Linked DNA regions of Homo sapiens: region 2 is linked to region 1. Evidence: fine-mapped expression QTL. A gene starts in region 1. The other region holds a variant in brackets. All regions are shown on one strand. Distances are between the middles of the regions.

Region 1 (10,177 bases):
TGTTTTTTGTTTTTTTTGTTTTTTTTTGCGATGGAGTCTGGCTCTGTCGCCAGGCTGGAGTGCAGTGGCGTGATCTCGGCTCAGTGCAACCGCCGCCTCCCGGGTTCAAGTGATTCTTCTGACTCAGCCTCCTGAGTAGCTGGGACTACAAGCGCCTGCCACCATGCCCAGCTAATTTTTGTGTTTTTAGTAGAGACGAGGTTTCACCATGTTGGCCAGGATGGTCTCAAACTCTTGACTTCGTGATCCGCCCACCTTGGCCTCCCAAAGTGCTGGGATTACAGGTGTGAGCCACCGCGCCCGGCCGGGTGATAGTTTTTTAAGCCAAGAATCACTGCATAGGAGTCATACTTCTAAAAAAAAATCTATCTAAAACCTCTTACATCTTCGTTATCCATAATATTGTGATCATGGGAATTTAGTTATCAGAACAAGGGCAGAATAGCAGAGACTGAGAAGGGAGATGTTCTGTTCCAAAAGCAAGCCAAACCCATGTTGAGGTACACCCTGTGCTTTTTTTAGTCACTCTTCTCATAGTACTTTGGTTTTCAACAATTGCTTTTCATAGTGTCCTTTCCAACTGATCTGTTACTGTTTCCACTTGAATATAGGGAAAGAGGCCTAGGGGTTATGTGAACGCATCCCGTGTTCACATTATATCTGTAACAGCCAAGAGGAGAGCTTGAGGCAGGCATAATATTGAAAGGGCTTCCTCTGAGCCTCATCGGGGAACCTCACAGGTCTCTCAGGCTTCAGGGCTGTAGCTCAAGTCTGGCCGGATCTCCCATTTGTCTCTTCTTTCTGTAGCTGGCTGTAGAGCCTTGCCTGCTTCTGACTCCTTTCTAAAGTTGCTGCCGCTTACTCTAGTTTTTAGGAGTTTTACTTTGAGGCAGGTAAGACATACTTTCCCTAGTTGCTCTCCCAGAGGTCAGATTCATTTCATTTTGATTCTAGTTAAGGGGAGGAGTGCAAATTTTAAAAAAGGGAGAGAGAGAGGTGTTACAGATTATGAAATCTTATACATTTTTATATAATAACATCTTAATCTCTAACATTGGTTCTCAAACTTGGTAGATATCAGAATCATCTAGAGGGCTTGTTAAGACAGATTTCTGGGTTCTGCTCTCAAAGTTGCTGATTAAGTAGTTTTGGGGTGAGGCTTGAGGATTTGCCTTTTTTTTTTTTTTTGAGATGGAGTCTTACTCTGTTGCCCAGGCTGGAGTGCAGTGGCGCGATCTCGGCTCACTGCAACCTCCGTCTCCTGGGTTCAACCAATTCTCCTGCCTCAGCCTCCTGAGTAGCTGGGATTACAGGCATGCGCCACCACGCCCAGCTAATTTTTGTATGTTTAGTAGAGACAGGGTTTTGCCATGTTGGCCAGGCTTGTCTTGAATTCCTGACCTCAGATGATCCGCCTGCCTCAGCCTCACTAAAGGCGTGAGCCACCACGCCCGGCCGAAGATTTGCTTTTTTAACACATTCTCCTCTGTCTCTGGAGCACTCAATCTTCTTTGCACACAGTATAGCCCTGAATTATTTTATTATTGTTTTGTATGTTGATTTTGAATCCCTTTTTCTAGTTTCTTCACAGAAAATATAGGATTTAAATCCTCTGGCATTTATCCTACTTACTGAACACATGGTCAGTACTTGGTATTGGTTAACCTATTAAAATTTTTGCCAAGTAAACTTTTTAATATTTCATCCTCCCGTGTGCAGTGTTTTTTAAAAACTTTTTTTTCTTTTCTAGGTATTTAATACAAGGCTGTTTAAGGTCAAAGAAAGACACTTGTTTCTTACCTATTTAGGAAGAGCACAGTATGATCCAGCAAAACCTAACTACATCTCTTTGGACAAACTAGTATCTATTCCTGATGAAATATTTTGTGAAGAGATTGCCAAAGCATCAGTACAGGACTTTGAAAAATTCTTAAAAACGCTTTAGATTTTTATGTATGTTAAAATGCAGTATTGTAAAGTGAATATATATATGAATAAATGAATATATTTTTAAATGCCTCGGGTCTCAACTGATATTGGAAACCATTTGATACTGTAAATTTGGGTACATATACTGTGGTAGAACTTTCATCAAGTTCCTAGTGACTTAATTCTTGTTTGACTTTTTCCTTCCTTCTTAGGAAATACAGCAAGCTCAGAGAAGGGGAAAGAGTTGGTTTACTTTAAGTTGGTGCTTTGTCATTCTCGTGAAGATGAAAACAGTGGAGGATTTTTAAAGTGGTTTCATTATAAAATGGCTTTATTTCCTTTGAACTGTTACGAGTTTCCAGAGCATACTACATTAGTCATCTAATATCTACTGCTCAGATAATGCTACAAAACACACTTCATTTTGGATTATCTACATTGTTAACTTCTTGAACACAGATATTCACAGTTGGCTAAGAATAAGGAAAAGGAAAGTGGAGTTTAAAGATTAGGGGCAATGAGATATAGTGAAAGGCTTAACTAGCCTTTGACTTATTACCAGTAAACAAATATTTGTTTTCCATTTACAACATGTGTTATCCTGGGCAAGTGATTTCATTTCTGAGCCTTTGCTTTTTTATTTGTAAAACGAAGCATCATGACTTCAGTTGTCTGCCTTATGATCACCAGATTGGGTAGACTGTTAACACTGGGGGCCCCCATGAACCATACCTGGTATTTGCACTCTTGTGTAGTTAGTCCTCTCCCACACTGACTCTGGGCCGATGTGATTTGGCCCAGAGGACATTTGTCAAGCAGAGGCTTAAGGATTTGCACATCAGGGCTTGCCCTCTTGGAACATTTGCTCTTGGCACCCTAAGCTACTGTGTAGAGAGGTCTGGTTACTCTGCTGGAGAAACTAGGTGGACAGAAAGATGTCTGGCCAAACCCAGCTTTTTCAGACATGCCAACTGAGCACCAGACATGCATGAAGAAATTATCTGGGATGTCCCAGACTTAGTAGATACTACACTAAGCAGAACGACCCAGCGGAATTCAGAATTGGGAGAAAGTGTTTTAAGCCGCTAACTTTGGGGGTAGTTTGTTGTGCACAGGGTTCTGTGGTGTGCTGGATGCCCTTTAAAAAACCTCATGAAAAACTAAATTTGTAATTGGTCAGGGCCAGGTATAGTGGCCTTCCTGTTACATATTTTATTCATGCAACCGACATTTGAGTTCTATAATACAGTGGTGAGTGTGGCATAGATATGTGCTTTCATGGAGTTCTCCAATGGATGAGATCAATAAACAGGAAACAATAAAAAATAAGCTGGGGACACCATGGAACCATCCTGTCCTCTCTTTCTGTGGCTCACAACCTCATTTTGCCTTTATGAATAACCCAGTGAACAACCTTAGCAGTCAGAATAGGCAAGTTGTGTTGATACAATGAACAATCCTAAAACCTCAAATGATTGAAAAACCACAAAAGTTTTTATCTTATACATGTTTCTTAGGACCACAAAGGCTCTGCTCCACATCATCTTCAGTGATACAGGTTGATGTATCCTGTCTCCATCATTTCTGGAGTGTTGCCAGTCTATGGAAAAGGAAAGGAATGTGAAGAATTGCTCTTAAAAAGTTATCACATTTTTCTTGGCCAAAGTATCACATGGCCATGCCTAACTTTAATAGGGCAGAGAGGCAATCCCTAATCCTGTGCTGGGAGGAAAGAAAACCAAAAATAGTTTTTGAATCAACAATCACTACCAGCAAACATTCAGTCTCTCTAGCTTAATTCCTTAGGAGCTGGATTTTGTGACAATTTTGGGTTTCAGATCTTTTGATATGTCTTTTCTTGCCACCTTCACCTGTAACCAGCAAGCTAAAACTTAAAGGGTGGAAGGGAGGAGAGTTTATTGAGTACCTACCCTCTGCAGGGCAATGTGCCAATGTACAAATGTACTGCATTTCTTCACATCTTTCAGACTTCACTTTGGCTAGTGTAAGATAGATCATTCATCAGCTTTAGTGCTGTATACAGGACTGACTAATGAAGAAATTGTGACAGCATGGAGATAGAAGAAAAAGGAAAATCAATATAATTTTAGAACTGGAATGTGACTAAGATCGTTAAATCTAACCTTTTGAACTTAGGATGAGACAAGGTTCTACTCTATATTGTCCCAGCTCTGAGCTTAAAACTGAGGGGAAAAAAAAGATATCACTGAGTAATGGTAGAAGTTCACCAGTAACTATCAGTCATGCTAGCTCCCCCTAATTGTTTTCTGTCTCTAGATGTTTATGCCTAAGACTTCGCATGTTGGGGTTGAGACCTTAAAAGTGAGAAAATCTATATACTTCTCTTTTGTCTTAAAATTGTGTGCAAATTCTGCAATACATCTTAGATTTAATCTTTAAAAACCTTTTCTGCTGGGCATGATGGCTCACGCGGGTAACCCAGCATTTTGGGAGGCTGACGTGGGTGGATCACTTGAGGTCAAGAGTTTGATACCAGCCTGGCCAACACGGTGAAACCCCGTCTCTACTAAAAATACAAAAATTAGCGGGCATGGTAGTGTGTACACCTGTAGTCCCAGCTACTCAGGAGGCTGAGGCACGAGTCATTTGAACCCAGGAGGCAGAGGTTGCAGTGAGCCGAGATTGTGCCATTCAGCCTGGGTGACAGAGGCTGAACAACAAAAAAAAGGGTGAAAAAAAACAAACAAAAAAAACCCAAAACCTTTTCTGACCTAACCTTCCACTAAAATAGCTAGATATAGATCTTCAGCTGGAGAAACCCAAGGCCTGAAAGGCTTGGTGTCTTTCCTGGATTAGTAGTGTAGCAGTATAGCATATGACCCTAGAATTAAGGAGCCCCAAATTTGCATCTGGATTTTCAGATTCTGGAAGAAGAACCTGGACTCTTCTAGTCATGTGCTCTTGGACAAGTTATTCAACCTTTCTGAGCCTCAGCTTTCTCCTCTCTACAATGAGATAATTACAGTACTTTTAGAATTAAAAGATAGTTTAGGGGAGTGAGAGATCACCTCCAACCCTCCCTCCCCTTTGCTCTTATGTGGGCTCTTTGGTTGAATCTAGGAACCAAATTGACACATGGCAGATTAACAAGAGAAAAGCATACTAATTTTACTAGTTTTACATGTACATGGGGATCCGCACAAAAGAGTGAAGTGGCCAATGTAAGATGCCTTTATACTTTTTACACGAACTACAAATCAGAAGAAAGGGGATCTGGCTAGGGGCAGTAAATTTCTCGCGGAGTCATTAGGAGAAAAGTGTGTGTGTTGGGGTGTAAACTTAGTGGAAGATAACGGTTACTTCGGAAAGTATATTCAGGTCCAAAGCAGCCCCCAGTTTCGTCTCTGGTGATAGGTGCTATTTTCTCCCTCTGGTAAGGGACGGGTACTCCAGAGGAATCCTGGAGGAAGCTTTATGGCTTGCTGCATGCAGGAAGAGATAGGTCATCAAACCTTTTCTGAAACTACAATTTCTCCAATATTTTCAACTCGAAATAATCAATGTACCAATTCCATATATTTTTGGGATGGCACATCCATCAGTCCTTCAATAGAAAGTAAGACGATGCCCTTAAAACATTTAGCTTCCTGCCTGGCACAAAGAGCTGAATTAATACTGTCCACGCTCCCATAGCTATTAACAGCAAATAACAGAACCCAGCTTTAAGCCTTGGTCTCCTAATTCCTGACCTGTGTTCTTCCCATCACATCACAACCAATACTTCTTAGAATGTAGCACGCAAAATGCCCCGCCTACTCCATTGGCCTCACCCTGGCCGAGAGGTGCTTACGCAGGTGCTGAACGGCAGTCGTCAGAACTGCGCCTGCGCAAGCGGCCTTTCTCTGTTCGCGATGTGACGTAACGCGCCTGCGGACTGGGCCCAGCTTGTCCTCTATGACTTACCCAGAAGGCAACGCTTCTCTTTCTGGTCAAAATGGCTGGTAAGCAGGCCGGTAAGTAACTGGGGGTCTTCTTGGCCGGCATCGTCGCGCTTCACCGTTTATTTTTGCTGCAGCTTGCTCCGTTTTCTCTCTTCTTTGTAAGTGGCCAAGTTTGTCGCGGAAGGGAAATTGGCTGCTTCAGTCCAGTGAAAAGGATGTGCTTCCCCACTCGTTTGCTGTCCCCAGGGCGGGCTTGCCTGTATAGGGTTGGGATGTTAACCCGCTGTTTGTGAAGGTGCCCGCGGTGGCTCTGACAGCCCTGGAGTTCCAGCTGCCCGTGCTTGGAAGTCCTTCCCCTTGGCCTTAGAAAAGTTAAAGGGCACAAGAGGATAACTAGTGGATGACTTTCAACCCGAATGAGCTCAGTGCTTTCTATGACCCAAGTGCTCTATCGTGTGCATTGGCCCTATAAATTTTCTTGCCATTGCGACGAGGGAGATATTAATTTCCCTTTTACGCTGATAAGATAACTGAGGCAAAGTGACCCAAGGAAGTAGAATTGGAAATATCATTGCACCCCTCGCGCTTCTCAAACTGCGAATCAGAGACAGTTGAGCAAGGGATACGAGCGACGCTTCAGGTTGACCTTGGATTATCTAGAGCGTCAGCTTGATCAGTAGGTTTGGAGAAATTTGAATTTATTGTAGGTTCTTTTTTTCTTTTTTCTTTCTTTTTTTTTTTTTTTGCTAATCTCTGCCCTCTGGCGGTACAAGTTGGAGTAGCCGTTTTGTTTGTTTGTTTGTTTTGTCTTTGAGACGGAGTCTTGCTTTGTCGCCCAGGCTGGAGTGCAATGGCACAATCTCGTCTCACTGCAATGCAACCAAGTTGGAGTAGCTTAAAAAATGTTGATCCTTTTCTCCCCGCCCCCAGCAATTGTGAAGCTGTTAGGAAACATCAGGTTGCCAGAAACATCCGTTAACCTAATTGACATTGAGCTTTTTGGGGGTGGGGGAGACTTTTTAAATAATTATTTTATTAATTTGGCAGATATTGAAGGAGTCTTACTAAATTCAAGACACTGCTTCTGTGCGTGTTTGGGAACTACATAGACCAGATCTCAACTCCCATTAGCTAACTCTGACCTTGGGTGGGATCACTTCTGTAAGCCAGCTTCCCCTTCTGTAGTAACAGACATGTAAATAAATCAGCTAATGTTGGTAAAGCAAATAGGAAAGTGTTTGGTGCACAATAAGTGCTTAGTGAATATTATTATAGTCACTGATAGGTGGTTGAATATAATCTGTCTTCCACAAGTATGTTTGTAGATTGTTGACTGATACTTGTTTTTCTAGCAGCAGTTTTATACATGACTCTTAATTTCCAAGGAGATTTGCTAAAGCCACGTAATCTGTAGTGCACTGAGTTTGCAAGCAAGGAGAGTTGAGTGAAAGGAGAGTTTGCTTTCCTTCCTTGGTAAGGGCTAACCCTAGACAAAATTTTAAAAGAGAATACAAACCTGTTCTACCTCTCCTTTTGTAAAATGTCTCTCCTAAAATGTCAGATACGGTCCTGCTGTACTTGGACCCTGCTGGGTTACTTCATCAGGCTCAGCCCTGTTCCCCAAACAGTTTTAAAATTACCTATTTCTCATCCTTTTTCAATATCCATTCCCTTGGGGGGAACTTAGTTGCTTAGGAGGAGGTAAATGGACTTCTTTTACGAATCCATATTAATGTTTAAATGACTAATGGTATCAAAATCCTCCCCAAAATACATACATTTTTAAAGAATGTGGCCAAATGAAATAACTGTAATATCGAGTAAAAATTTTAGAGGATGAGGGTCATTTAGACCTGCCAGTCTATGCTGAAATCTCACTGTCTTTTCCCTACAACTCCAGCTCTCTTGAAATGAAAAGTTTACAATTATTTCCTGTGATCTATTTATGAAACTACAAATGATGGAAATTTCCAAGTCCTTTTCCTATCTCCCACCCCTTCATTTCTGAAGGTAACAGGGCAGGCATAAGGGCACACGATGTACCTATGGATCTTTTGTACATTCAGTGTTTGAGTTTACCCTTTTCTTTCATGACTTGCCACCATTTTCCTGCAACCACTTTTGCTCATAAATAAAATAAGCACTTTTTATCAACATTTTATAGAGTATAAACTTTTTTCTTTTAAATCTAATTCTTTTGATTAAATTCTTGCTGTATATACTATATACTTTTAAAAGGAAATTTATTTCTATGTTTGCATTCATCAGCAAGATAACTGAGTACTGGTTGCTTGCCTATCAATGTGTTCATATAGTATAATTAAATTGTAGCAATTAACAGTGTGACAATTATCAGTTTCAGCATCAGGCAAGTGGCTGGATGGTATTCGAAAATGGTATTACAATGCTGCAGGATTCAATAAACTGGGTAAGCAGCTGTGCTGTTTAATGTTTTTTGTTGTTGTTGTTGTTTCTTTGTTTTTTTTTTTGTTTTTCTGAGAGTATTGCTTTTGCAAGTGTTACTGTGGTTCCAAAAACCATTTCAGTTCTTGTATACATCAGAAGATTTTAAAATTAAATCACATTATGTTAAATCCAGTTCCTTTTTAAAGTTTTTTTGAGAGAAGAGGGATGAAAGCCTCTAAAATGTTCGACTTGGTAATGATTTAAGTAGTAAGACATTTTCCTTCTACACCCCCTTTCCCAACTCTTCCACTTAAAATTTTATTTATTTATTTATTTATTTATTTGAGACAGAGTCTTGCTCTGTCACCAGGCTGGAGTGCAGTGGCGCAATCACGGTTCACTGCAACCTCCGCCTCCCGAGTTCAAGTGATTCTCCTGCCTCAGCCTCCTGAGTAGCTGGGATTACAGGCGTGTGCCACCACGCCTGGCTAATTTTTTTTGTATGTAGTAGAGACGGGGTTTCACCATATTAGGCTGGTCGCAAACTCCTGACCTCAGGTGATCCACCTGCCTCGGCCTCCCAAAGTGCTGGGATTATAGGTGTGCACTACTGCGCCCGGCCTTCCACTTAAAATTTTAATTTAAATTATATAAACATTGAAAGTAGAGAGTTTTTGAATATTAAAATTTTATCACGTCCATGCAATCATATGATTCCTAAGCTTTTTTAGAACTTTGTAATTTACCATGAACTTCATCTTTTACTATTGAAGCTTGAAGAAAGTGTAAGCAAAAGTCACTGTTCCTTAGTATACTATCATTTTAAGATTCTTTAATACCTTGATCTCAGATTTAAACTATGAGAAAAAAGAGATGTGGTTTATTAATGTGTGTTTAAAAACAAAGTAAACATTTAAAATATTTTGTAAATGGTTTAGATAAAATATGAATTTTGTGGCATTGGATTTTAAGAGGCTCATATATTGTTTCCATAGTCTAGTTCAAGAAGTAACCCATTATATCAAGTAATAACTCATTACTTTTAATGGCAAAACTGCAATTACTTTTGCACCAACCTATAATGTATGAAATGCATTGAATTTCCATTGAACCTAGTGATTTGAATTCGATAGTTCACCAAAAGTTGTAAGTTATAAGTCATAAAGGTATTTTACTAATTTAAAAAAACCGCGATTTTTGAGATGCATGTGCAATCTAACTTTGTCATCTATCATAGGGTTAATGCGAGATGATACAATATACGAGGATGAAGATGTAAAAGAAGCCATAAGAAGACTTCCTGAGAACCTTTATAATGACAGGATGTTTCGCATTAAGAGGGCACTGGACCTGAACTTGAAGCATCAGATCTTGCCTAAAGAGCAGTGGACCAAATATGAAGAGGTAGCACAGCTTTATCTACCTGACAGTGTTGCTCATTAAGGATGGAGTTTTAGAAACAAGAGAAACATGTTCATTTGCATAGTGTTAGAGTTCTCTGAGTCATGTCAAATAAATATGTGAGGTTAATAAAGCAAATGTTATTTCCGTTTTAGAAGAAAACCACATTGAGTCTTACGTGTGAAATGATTCTTCTGAAATTACTAAGCAAGTCTCTAATATAGAGAGCCAGGACTAAAATCCAGGTCTGTTGCCTCCCAGGTCTTTGCTGTTCCAGCTCTGCACTCTGCTTCCTACTTAGATGAAAAGATCAGCCCATTGAGTGTCCCTCCAGATCCCAAGAAGAGCTTCTGTGAAGCAAACTCTCACCCCTTGAACTGCATTGAAACTAGGCAAAGGCCTGTGGACATTCATTTCTTTTTCTTCCCGAAAAGACTTCCCCCTCATAACCTATCAAAGCAACTTATCACACCATCACCACAGATTTGACATTTTAAAAAGCAGATAGTTCTTAGGTT
Region 2 (10,177 bases), 210 kb before region 1:
AGGCAGGAGCCCATGGTGTTGGGGGTAGGCTCAGGCATGGCGGGCTACAGGTCCGGAGCCCTGCCTCACAGGGAGGCAGCTGAGGCCCGCTGAGAAGTGAGCACAGCTGCTGGCCCAGGTGCTAAGCCCCTCACTGCCCGAGGCTTGCAGGCCGGCCGCTCCGAGTGCTGGGTCCCCCGAGCCCACGCCCACCCGGAACTCTTGCTGGCCAGCAAGCGCCGGGGGCAGTGCCGGGGGCAGTCCCGGTTCCCGCCCGCGCCTCTCCTTCCACACCTCCCTGCAAGCTGAGGGAGTCGGCTCCGGCCTTGGCCAGCCCAGAAAGGGGCTCCCACAGTGCAGCGGCGGACTGAAGGGCTCCTCAAGCGCGGCCAGAGTGGGTGCCAAGGCCGAGGAGGCGCCGAGAGCGAGCGAGGGCTGCGAGGGCTGCCAGCATGCTGTCACCTCTCAATAGCTGTTCTGGGCCCCTGGGCCTACAGCTTATTTACTGCCCGCATGACTGATCCTCAGAAACATCAGTGAATAGTCAGTATACCAATGTTTCAGGTAAGGAATTCGAGAGGCAAAATACTAAGTGGCTAGCCTAAGATAACACAGCTTGAAGAAATTAAAATTGAGACCCAAACCAATTAATTATAGATTATAGATCATAGGTTTAAAAAAAAAAAACCAGTGGGTTTACAAACTAATTTTGGAATTTGGGATCTGTTTCCAAACAACATCTTAATATAATTCCAATATATACATTAGATATGAACAGAGTTGCTGGGATCGAAAGGTGGGATTGGCCTCCAGGACACAATGGCTCTACGTGATAGAGTGTGGAAGTCAGCACCCTGCATTGCACTTTGGCATTGAAGGATGGAGGAATGACCAGTGAGAACACAGCTTCCTCCCATTGTAAGTGGAGTCCATATGATGTGTGTGCTTTATTTCAACAAGTTTTATCACAGTTCAATCCCAGTTTCTTCTGCACACTGAAGTTGAACCCATTTCTCCCATTATTTCTACTCTAATATAGGAAAGAGGAGAATCTTGCATCTTGACAGATCGCCACCTGGTAGACTATTCTGCGATATTCTTACCTGGGTTTACTAGAGAACAAATACAAGATTAATCTTGGGCAATGTCTATGGAAATCCTAAAGTTCTCCTTTTTTTAAGCCATTCTTTACAATCCTCCAAAGGGATGCTTTAGCCAGGAGGCTCAGTGAGGAGCAGAAAGGCTGTGGGCAAAGGTCGCAGGGCAGCCACTGATGTGGCTCTCCTCTGCCTCATCTCCAGTGACTCGTTAACAAGCCAAGTTGCAGTGAAGTGTGCGTGACCTCTGTGGCTTTCTGCCACATTGCCATGTGAGTGGCATCTCAACAGAATAATGTTAAAGAGTAAACTTAAAAAAAATTGCTCTTGTGATTACTTTTAAGTTTCAGGGTTGAAATTTAATCTCTACTAATTCCTGGAGAAGAAAAAACAAGTGGCTTCCACAGTCCCAGCTCCTGGTGTCACTACTCACTGTCCCTCCCCCACCACACACACACACCTTGGGGTATAAGGAGGTGACCATGTATAAACCCCAACAACCCACACTTCAGGAAATATATCAATGCCAGTCTGTTTTATTTCTGTGACTACTGGCAGCCAGAGGGGCTAAATGGTGGCTACTGCAGCATCAGACAGGAAGGCGATAGCTTCATGGGGTGTCTAACCACTTCCAACAATTGTACTAGGTCAAATCCTTCACTGATACGATCTATTTGATTTTTTCCGGAACTTTAAACTTTTATTTCTATGTCTTATCTTTCATAATTTCTATCTCTGCTCAGTTTTGCAGTAGGTAATTTGATCATATCAGTCTTCCAATTTTCTAATTCCTCCTTCAGGGACAAACTGTTTCTAGTATAGTATGTTTAAAAGCATTTACTGTGGGATTACCCCCAAAACAATAACGACTAACTAGTATCTACTCTAACAAAATAAAGCATAGAGGAGTCTTTACTAAACATTGGATTAGTTTCAAAACAGAAAACAAAATTTTTTGTTTCAAGATAGTCAAATAAAATCAATAACAACCTAACAATCAAATGAAATGAATTAACTTTTTTTCCTCTCTTTTTGGGAGACTAGTCAATGCTAGCAAGGGTGTGTGTGAAATAGATATTTTCATATATTTCAGGTGTCAATATAAATTAGTACAATAATTTTAAGAAGCAATTTAAAATATGTATATTAAGAAAGTTTCTTCGGTAGTTAAAGATTATGAAACTTATGTAACAAAGATAATGCTCTGAAAATAACATTACATTTTGTTTGTTTGTTTGTTTTGAGGCGGAGTCTTGCTCTGTCTTCCAGGCTGGAGTGCAGTGGTACTATCTCGGCTCACTGCAACCTCTACCTCCTGGGTTCAAGAGATTCTCCTGCCTCAGCCTCCCGAGTAGCTGGGATTACAGGCGCCCGCCACCAAGTCCAGCTAATTTTTTTTTCTGTATTTTTAATAAAGACAGGGTTTCACCACGTTGGACAGGCTGGGCCTGCCTCAGCCTCCCAAAGTGTTGGGATTACAGGCATGAGCCACTGTTCCCATCCTGGAAATAACATTAAGTTTTAAAACAAAGTATAAATTATATGTGCAGTATGAATTATTACTATGGAACATACATGGAATAAATTGGGAACAGAATTTGGTTTGGGGTGGTAGAATTATAGGGTAATGTTTTTCTTTCTGCTTTTTCTTATTTTAAAATAATAAATTTCATTGTACTGCTTTTTATGAATGTAAAATTTACATAACATAGAATTAAGATTTTTAAACTGTACAATTCAGTGGCATTAAGCACATCCACAATGTTATACAACCATTACCTCTATGTTGTTCTAAAACATTTGATCACTCCAAAAGGAAACCTCATATCCATTAAGAAGTCTCTTCATACTTCCTCTTCTCCAATCCCTGGCAACCACTAATTTGCTTCTGTTTGTACTAATTTACCTATTCTGAATATTTTATGTAAATGGAATCATACCATATGTGACTTTTTGTGTCCAGCTTGTTTCACTTACTTAGTATGTTTCCAAGTTTCACCTATGTAGTAGCAGGTATCAGCACTTCATTCCTTTTTATGGCCAAATGCTATTTCATTGTATACTATACCACATTTTATTTATCCATTCATCCATCCATGGACATTTAGTTTGTTTCCAACCCTTGGCTATGGGAAGTAAATAGTGCTGCTATGAACATTCACGTACAAGTTTTTGTTTGACACCTATTTTCAGTTCTTTTGGGAATATACCTAGAAGTGTTGGTACAGAACTAGAACTAGTTGCTCAGTGAAGGCATATTTATCAATTTTTCTCTCTCAATTTGTGTGCAGCATCTTGGATGTGATGGAAAGCAGAACCATAGAGTAGATTTCTCATCAGCACAGTCCAAAGTGAAAGTGACAGGAAGCGCGTGAGCTCTGGTGAGCAGCCGCGGTTGTCCTGAGGACACCCTAGTCTAGTGTTACTAAAGTGCAGTCCAGGAGGCATCCTGTGAACAACATAGTGCCAATCAGTGGACCGGCATTTTGAGGAGTATGGCTTAGGGCTGGTAAGGTGCTAAGCACTGATAAGAACCTGAGGAGGTTTTGTAATAAGACTAATGGAGATCCAAGAATCCTTGAATTAGGGTTAAGGTAAGAGGGGTCTTTTAGGTCTGTAGGGACATAACAGTAGGCTTCTATTAACCTTGCATGGCAGCCTCAGGCCACATCTGGAGGTGGGGAGGAACAAGAAGTGTCTGTACACCCCTTTTTCCTGGCAGCCCTTCTCCTCTCACCGTTTATGACTCAAGGCTGGCTTGATGGATTGATGGTTACCCAGGCAACAGAGGTTGTATGGCTCTTATCAAAGGTTCTGCTTTGTGTGTGACAATTTAGTCAGGATCACTGGGCTTTGCAATGCTTTTCTGGCACAATTGGGGCTCTCATCTGGAATTTGCTTCCAGTTTCATCACAGAGAGCTGGTCTCAATGTTATGGGTATGGGCTGAATGCACCTCTAACTTCTTTTTTTCCTGCAGGAAGAATAAAATCATAAAAACAGATTACAAATGGAGAAAACAACCCCCTTGATAAAATGGATAGAAACTCATTTACATATTATTTTTTGAATGTCATATGTTTAAGCCCACAGGAGCCCCTGCAAGGATATTGCAAAGATTGCAGCCAGCACACACACACACAAAAAAACTACCTGAGAAATAGTTACTCCTCTTAATGGGAAATGGAGATTAATCCCAATTGGGCATCAAACATCAGCCGAGTGCTCAAAAATTGTAGAGGCAGAAAATGTTGGAGATTATTAATCAAAGTTCTGGCTGGGTCAAAGTGATCTTCCAAGTTGGTGCAGCCAAATATAAACATTTCAACCAAAGGTGAGTAGCCTTTAATGCTTCTCCGTAACGACAGTAAGAGTGCTTTAATTAAATAGGAGAGTGAAGCAAGTAGCTGATGTGAATCTGTTCTTAAGATATTCAATGCAAAGCCCAAGTTTGAGCACTTCTTTCCAAGCTTTCAGTGCCATTCTAGGGTCTGGATTTGGGCTAGTCAACAAGTGTCTGCTGGTAGCTAATACCAGGATTGAAACATCAAAGAAAGGCACCTTAACCTTGAAGTCAGGTCCTGTTCCTTAAGTAAGCGTTAGCCTCAGCATTTGAGTAGTAGAATTTCCAGGGTTAACGTTCTTCCCTTTGAGGCAACTGAGAACTTGGAAAAAAGTGTCCTTCCTGAGCCTTTGGCTCTGCGAGTTTCCTTTAGAACCCCTATGGCCCTTCCAGATTTATCTAGTTATTCCAGTTAGCAAATAGCGTTCAAAACTGATTCATAGTGATCCTGCAGGGGTGAATTGAGAAGGAGTCTAAGGCCGTTTCGGGGCTTAGTAACAGCGTGTGCTACATGCTGCCG[CA/A]GGCCTGGGAAAGGATTTCTACACCTGCCATTTCTGTTTGGCTTAGAGTCCACAGTTGTTTCCCATTACTAGGGCTGTTTCCCTGACCTGAGATCCTATCTTCCCACCCATTGTCCCAGGCCTGCCTAGTTTCTCAGCAGTGGGATGGAGTGGAATGGGTTTTGGTTCAAACTGCCCTGTATTCAAACCCTAGCTCTGTTGCTTATTAGCTGTGTGTCTTTGGTGAGAGAATGAATTGAAATAACACAAGTAAAATATACGGGAGAGGACCTAGGCATGGTAGGTGCTCAATTAATGGTACTCTTTTTTTATAACTCAAGTAGAGCTACTTTTTGGAAGCTATTTCTGGCTCGCTTAGTTCCCATGGCCTCCCGCACACCCTCTCCTATGGACTTGTCCCACTTGACTGTGATCGCCATTTTCATCTCTCTCCCCAACTGGTCTGACTTATTTGTCTTGTTTATCTCCCTGTATCTCCAGCAACCAACACCATGTCTGACACATCTTAATTGTTCAAGAAATGCTGCTTGTTGACAACTTGCTCCTAAGCTACTAGTTCTTACCTATCTGCCTTAACAAGTTAAGATATTATGGCTTGAATGATGAAAAACATCAGTTCATAAGGCTTCCATCAGCAGTGTCAAGGGCAAAGTCAGCCCTAGAAGCAGCCGCTCTTCTCCAATAGAAATGAGCCAACAGCACAGAATGTGAAGAGAGCCCCAGTCATTTCCAAACCATCAAACTACAAAAGAGCTCTTCCAAACCACCATATGGCCGGTGAGGCCAGATGCATCCACTGACAAGCATCATGGTGACACACTGAGCCAGGCTGCTCACTGAGTCACTGGTGGTCAGGAGGTAAGACTTTTGATGCTGCTGGAATCAGGATCCCAGTGGGGTTTAGGGAATGATGCATCTACCCAGCTGCTCTTAGAATTCTCTATTAAGTTCTTAACCCTCCTAAATTAGACCTCAGGAGCTTAAGCTTGGCATTGGGTGACCTTATAAAGAAAGCCATGAAATGGTCTCTGTACCAGACCTCTGTGTGGGGAATTAAGTAGAAAATTTCTTAACATATTTCCTGTTGGTTCAATGCTGTGGCCACCCCTATTGTTTTTCTTTGTTCTGCCTTAGTGCAGAGGGGGTCTTTTAACATAAAATAGGTACATATTTTTCTATGGGAGATGATTGGTTTTAGCATGAAAGAGGCTGGCTTATGTGGTGGGTACTCTACCTAAAGAATTTGAAAACACAGGCAAACAGGACCCCAGTCAGGGAACTATGGAGAGCCCTCCAAGATGACACTCATCAGCTCCACCCCAGGGCAATGACGGTATGAGGCTAGGACCTGGGGAGATGAGTGTTGAGAGGGTGGGATGCCAGGAGGCCAAGGGGAAGTGGTTTCTGTGTGCCACATAATATTGAATCAGTGCTTGCTGAAAAGTGGCCCAAAGGGAAAGTGAAGACATATATATGTATTATATGCATGCAACATATATAGTAGATAATATATATAGTACATACTAGAAATATAATCTATTAGGGGCCACATGTGTTTCTGATAAGCCATAGCTAAGATTAAGTTTTTCTTGAGATAAACTAAGAGGGTTCATCTTTCTGGACTTTGAGGACCACAGTGGCAGGATTACGTGGGCGTATCTCATTTCAAAAGGAAAAAAGGAAGCTCCTGAGCACTAACCTGCCTGGAGAATTCTCCCATTCTCTTATCCATGCCATAACAATCACTTTTACTACAAGTCAGACACGGTTCAATGCTTCCCATGTTTTAACTCACTAATTCTGTAAGTATTATCATTTTATCATTTGTAACTGAGAGGAACTGAGGCACTGAGAAATAAAGTAGCTTAACCAAGTCACGGGAGCTCATGGTGGCAGAGCTGGAATTGTGAGTGTAGGCCCTTGGAGTCTAGAGCCTGTGCCCCTCACCGCTAGGCCGTACAGCCTTTCCTCAGCCATCGAGAGCCTCTTCCACACACCTCCTTTAATCCTGACCCGCCTCTTGCTTCCTGCGGCTGCTCCCTTCTGTGATCCCAAACTGTGCATAGGGGGCTGGGCAGTGGCCCTCCTGTTACTTGGAGTATCTATTACTCACTTCTGGGCTAGTCTATGAGATAGGAGCATGAACCTCATCTCTTAATCATTTTTTAATTCCTTGGTGTCCCATTTGATAAAATGCACAAAGCTAGTACCGACAAATGTTTGACAGATGAAATGAATGAGTAAGTGAATAAACTTAGGAATACGGGAGAAAACTGGGGTCATATGTGCATCATCAGACCTGGTAACAATAGCCATTAATATTTATTGATGGTTTGCTATGCTCCAGGCAGTATGCTGAGGACTTTGCATGCGTTATCCATTTAGTCATTAGCATGACTCTCTGGGACAGGTTCTGCTTCTATCCGCATTTTACATTTCAGGAAAACAAGGCTCCAATAGATGGACTTACTCAAGTTCTCACAGCTAGTGATCTGCAGAGCTAGTATCCCAACTCACATCTATCTGATGCCAAAACCTATGATCTTAAATCTCCACAACCTTTTACTGTGTTCAGATCCCTGGCCTGATAGTCTAACCTTGCATACTTGGTCATGGCAATCTAGCAGAGGCTTTCAAAGCTACATTTTTAAAGTCCTACCATCTTTGCTGTGGATCTCCCTAAAACAATGCTGTCTGTGGTTGTCTTGAAAATCCCTGTTTTTCTTATTGGTGTTAAACCTAGCTACTGGTCATCACATTGGTATTACCACTGCCTAATTTGTAATGGACCCTTGCTATGTACAGGGCTAGATTCTCTTAGTATTTTAATGCATTTAATTCTGTCAACAGCCATATGAGGAAAGTACTTTTATTAAATTCATTTTATGAATGAGGAGGACACTGAGGCCCAGAGAATCAAATTAACTTGCCCAAAGTTCCACTATAAGTAAGGGACAGGCTGGTGTTTAGTTCCAAGCAGCCTGGTTGCAGAGCCTGCATTCTCAGCTGCTGTGCTAACCTGACTCAGCAGCAGGATTGGGTGGTTTCACATCCCTGCCTGTGGTTGCAGTTCTTTAATTCGCTTGGGATCTTCAAAGGCCAAGGCTATGGGCTTGATCTCTGATAGCACTAGTCTGTGCCTTAATCCTGGCCAGATGTCCTGCAAATATCTCATAGATCTAGGACCTTGGTTACCAAGGAGACCAGGTGGGAGAATGGGGATGAATTAGTGCCAGTCAACCAGTTCTGTAGGGAAAACTGTGCTGCTGACAATAGGTCAGAACTAGCTTCCCCATATCATTAAAATACTCACTGAAAACATGTTAGTCAACAAATCTGCCTTACTTACATGCCCAAATGCTAAACCTGTCCCCAACTGGCTTTACGTGCACAGAATGTTGGCTCTCACATCCATGATTCGTTGAAAAGGTCAAATTCCACTCTGGCTGTTTCATCAGAAGGGTAAATACTGTGTGTTAGATATTTGATGTGCATAGACTAAGAGCATTTTCCAGTGAAAGCTTCAGAGGTTTGTGGGCAGAGCCAGAGTCACAGGGGATGTTAGAGCTGCCAGGAGTTTTAGGGAATCAAAGTCCAGCCCCCAAAACCCCTGTTTTACAGATAAGGGAGGCCAGATTGCCCCTGCATGCTTGCAGCTAGTGATGGCAGAACCAGGACTAGACCTCCCATCTGCCATGAACTGGCTGATGGAGATTGTCAAATTATGTTATCAAAACTCTTTAGAGATTTATCTGGCTTCATTGGCAAAGGTTGGGAATTGAAAGTGGATATTCCATCATTTGAGAAGGAGGAAGGATGTGCTATTAGGGCGTTAGCATCTCTCTATAGTCCAATTGAAATGAAAAATTAATCGACTTTCTGGCCAATTCAATCAATCAAGGTAGTCAATGGGAAGTTATTTCCTCAAATACTCAGGTTCCATGTTTGAATTAACTGCTGTCTGTATGTTAATTCTATGTAACTGCTCTATGTATTTCACTGTTTCTATTAATAAAATAATATTGAAGTCTTTTTTTAAAATCTTGACTAATAGGAAAATTATCATACTATCTAATAGATCTTATAAATCCTTTGTCTTTCACAAATCTTTGCATGAAAAACAAGTCTGTCACTTCAAAAATAATTTGTCATATAGGGTTTCCATTTGGAATGATGAAAACTTCTGGAAGAAGACAGGAATGATGGTGGCACAACATCACAACTGAACTTAATGGCACCAAATTGTATACTTTAAAATGGATAAAATGGTAAATTTTGTGGTATTATTCCATAATAAAGTAATTTATAAAGAAGCCCAATTATTGGGAATAGAAAAAATCAATTCAGTGACAAATAATATATTTCATTGATTTGTCCAATAAATATATATGGAGTACCTGCTATGGGTCAAGTACTTATTTGAAAAATGTTTGAAAGTTGAGTACTTGCTAACTGTAAGGTGTTACACAAATATGTTTGTGGATAACTGTGAGTGTGCTTGTGGGGCAAGTGCTGGTTACTTACCCTTCACACCCTTCACTCTTGTGGATTCACTCTTTACTCTTTTCCACATTGCTTTGTATTTTGGAAGTCTCTCCTGAATGGACTGCAGCAACAGTTTCCCTTACCAACCTGGCCTCCTGTTAGGTTTGGCCAGTGGTGGGGTGGCAGCGGGTGGGGGGATGCCAGGAGAAGAAGAGGGAGAGGGAGGAGTGTGAGGTTTGCATATATTCCTTCAACTCCTTTCCTGCTGGTTCATTGTAAATTTGTTGCATCCCTCTACCACAGGGGCCCTGTCCCAGAAATCCAAAAGTATTCAAAATAGAACTAAGTTTCAAGATCTTCTACTTTAAGGTTGCTTCTGAGTTTTCTTTTTCTTTATGGCTCATGTTTTAAAAGATGACCACATTTTCAAATGGGTTAACATTTTCTAAAAAGTCCATTTTAGAAAAAAATGGAGTTCCAATTAACAGAGTTTTGAATTATCCAATATATTTTATTATAAAACAAGAAAGCACCATTTCAACTAGGGAGCACTGATTGCTTAAAACTACACTCTTTTGAATAAACCCATATTAGTTTAATGAAGTTTTCCTGTGATTAGTATAATCTACTGCAATTGTATTCAAACCCCAAATTATGGGTATTATATGCCCGAAATACAGCACTGGTTAAAGGCAATTAGTTTAATCACTTTCCTGATGGGAAATGAGACAGGGACACCACAGAGCAGGGCAG

Alleles and levels. Positions count from the first base shown, and alleles are read on the strand shown. Sizes are in standard deviations (SD) of each study's normalised expression.
With allele CA in place of A in region 2, the expression in tibial nerve of the gene that starts at base 5,891 in region 1 is higher (moderate effect, 0.60 SD a copy in GTEx).

Evidence for each region.
Region 2: its variant is fine-mapped to the expression of UQCRB in tibial nerve (GTEx, PIP 0.91).

Annotation. Positions count from the first base shown.
Region 1 is chr8:96,231,259-96,241,435 of GRCh38, reverse strand. It overlaps UQCRB (ubiquinol-cytochrome c reductase binding protein), which reads left to right and starts at 5,891. Exons shown (of 4, transcript NM_006294.5): 1 at 5,891-5,924; 2 at 8,209-8,280; 3 at 9,496-9,662. The coding sequence starts at 5,906. UQCRB-AS1 (UQCRB antisense RNA 1) reads right to left here and starts at 6,143. Exons shown (of 2, transcript NR_183275.1): 1 at 5,875-6,143; 2 at 2,240-3,529. It overlaps MTERF3 (mitochondrial transcription termination factor 3), which reads left to right. Exons shown (of 8, transcript NM_015942.5): 8 at 1,751-2,034. The coding sequence ends at 1,945. RefSeq lists an enhancer at 5,885-6,164.
Region 2 is chr8:96,442,409-96,452,585 of GRCh38, reverse strand. All of the region lies in intron 3 of LOC105375653 (a long non-coding RNA gene), which reads right to left. Among named protein-coding and RNA genes, the nearest start is that of SDC2, 46 kb to the left of the region's middle. The variant CA/A (reference allele first, on the strand shown) is at 4,939.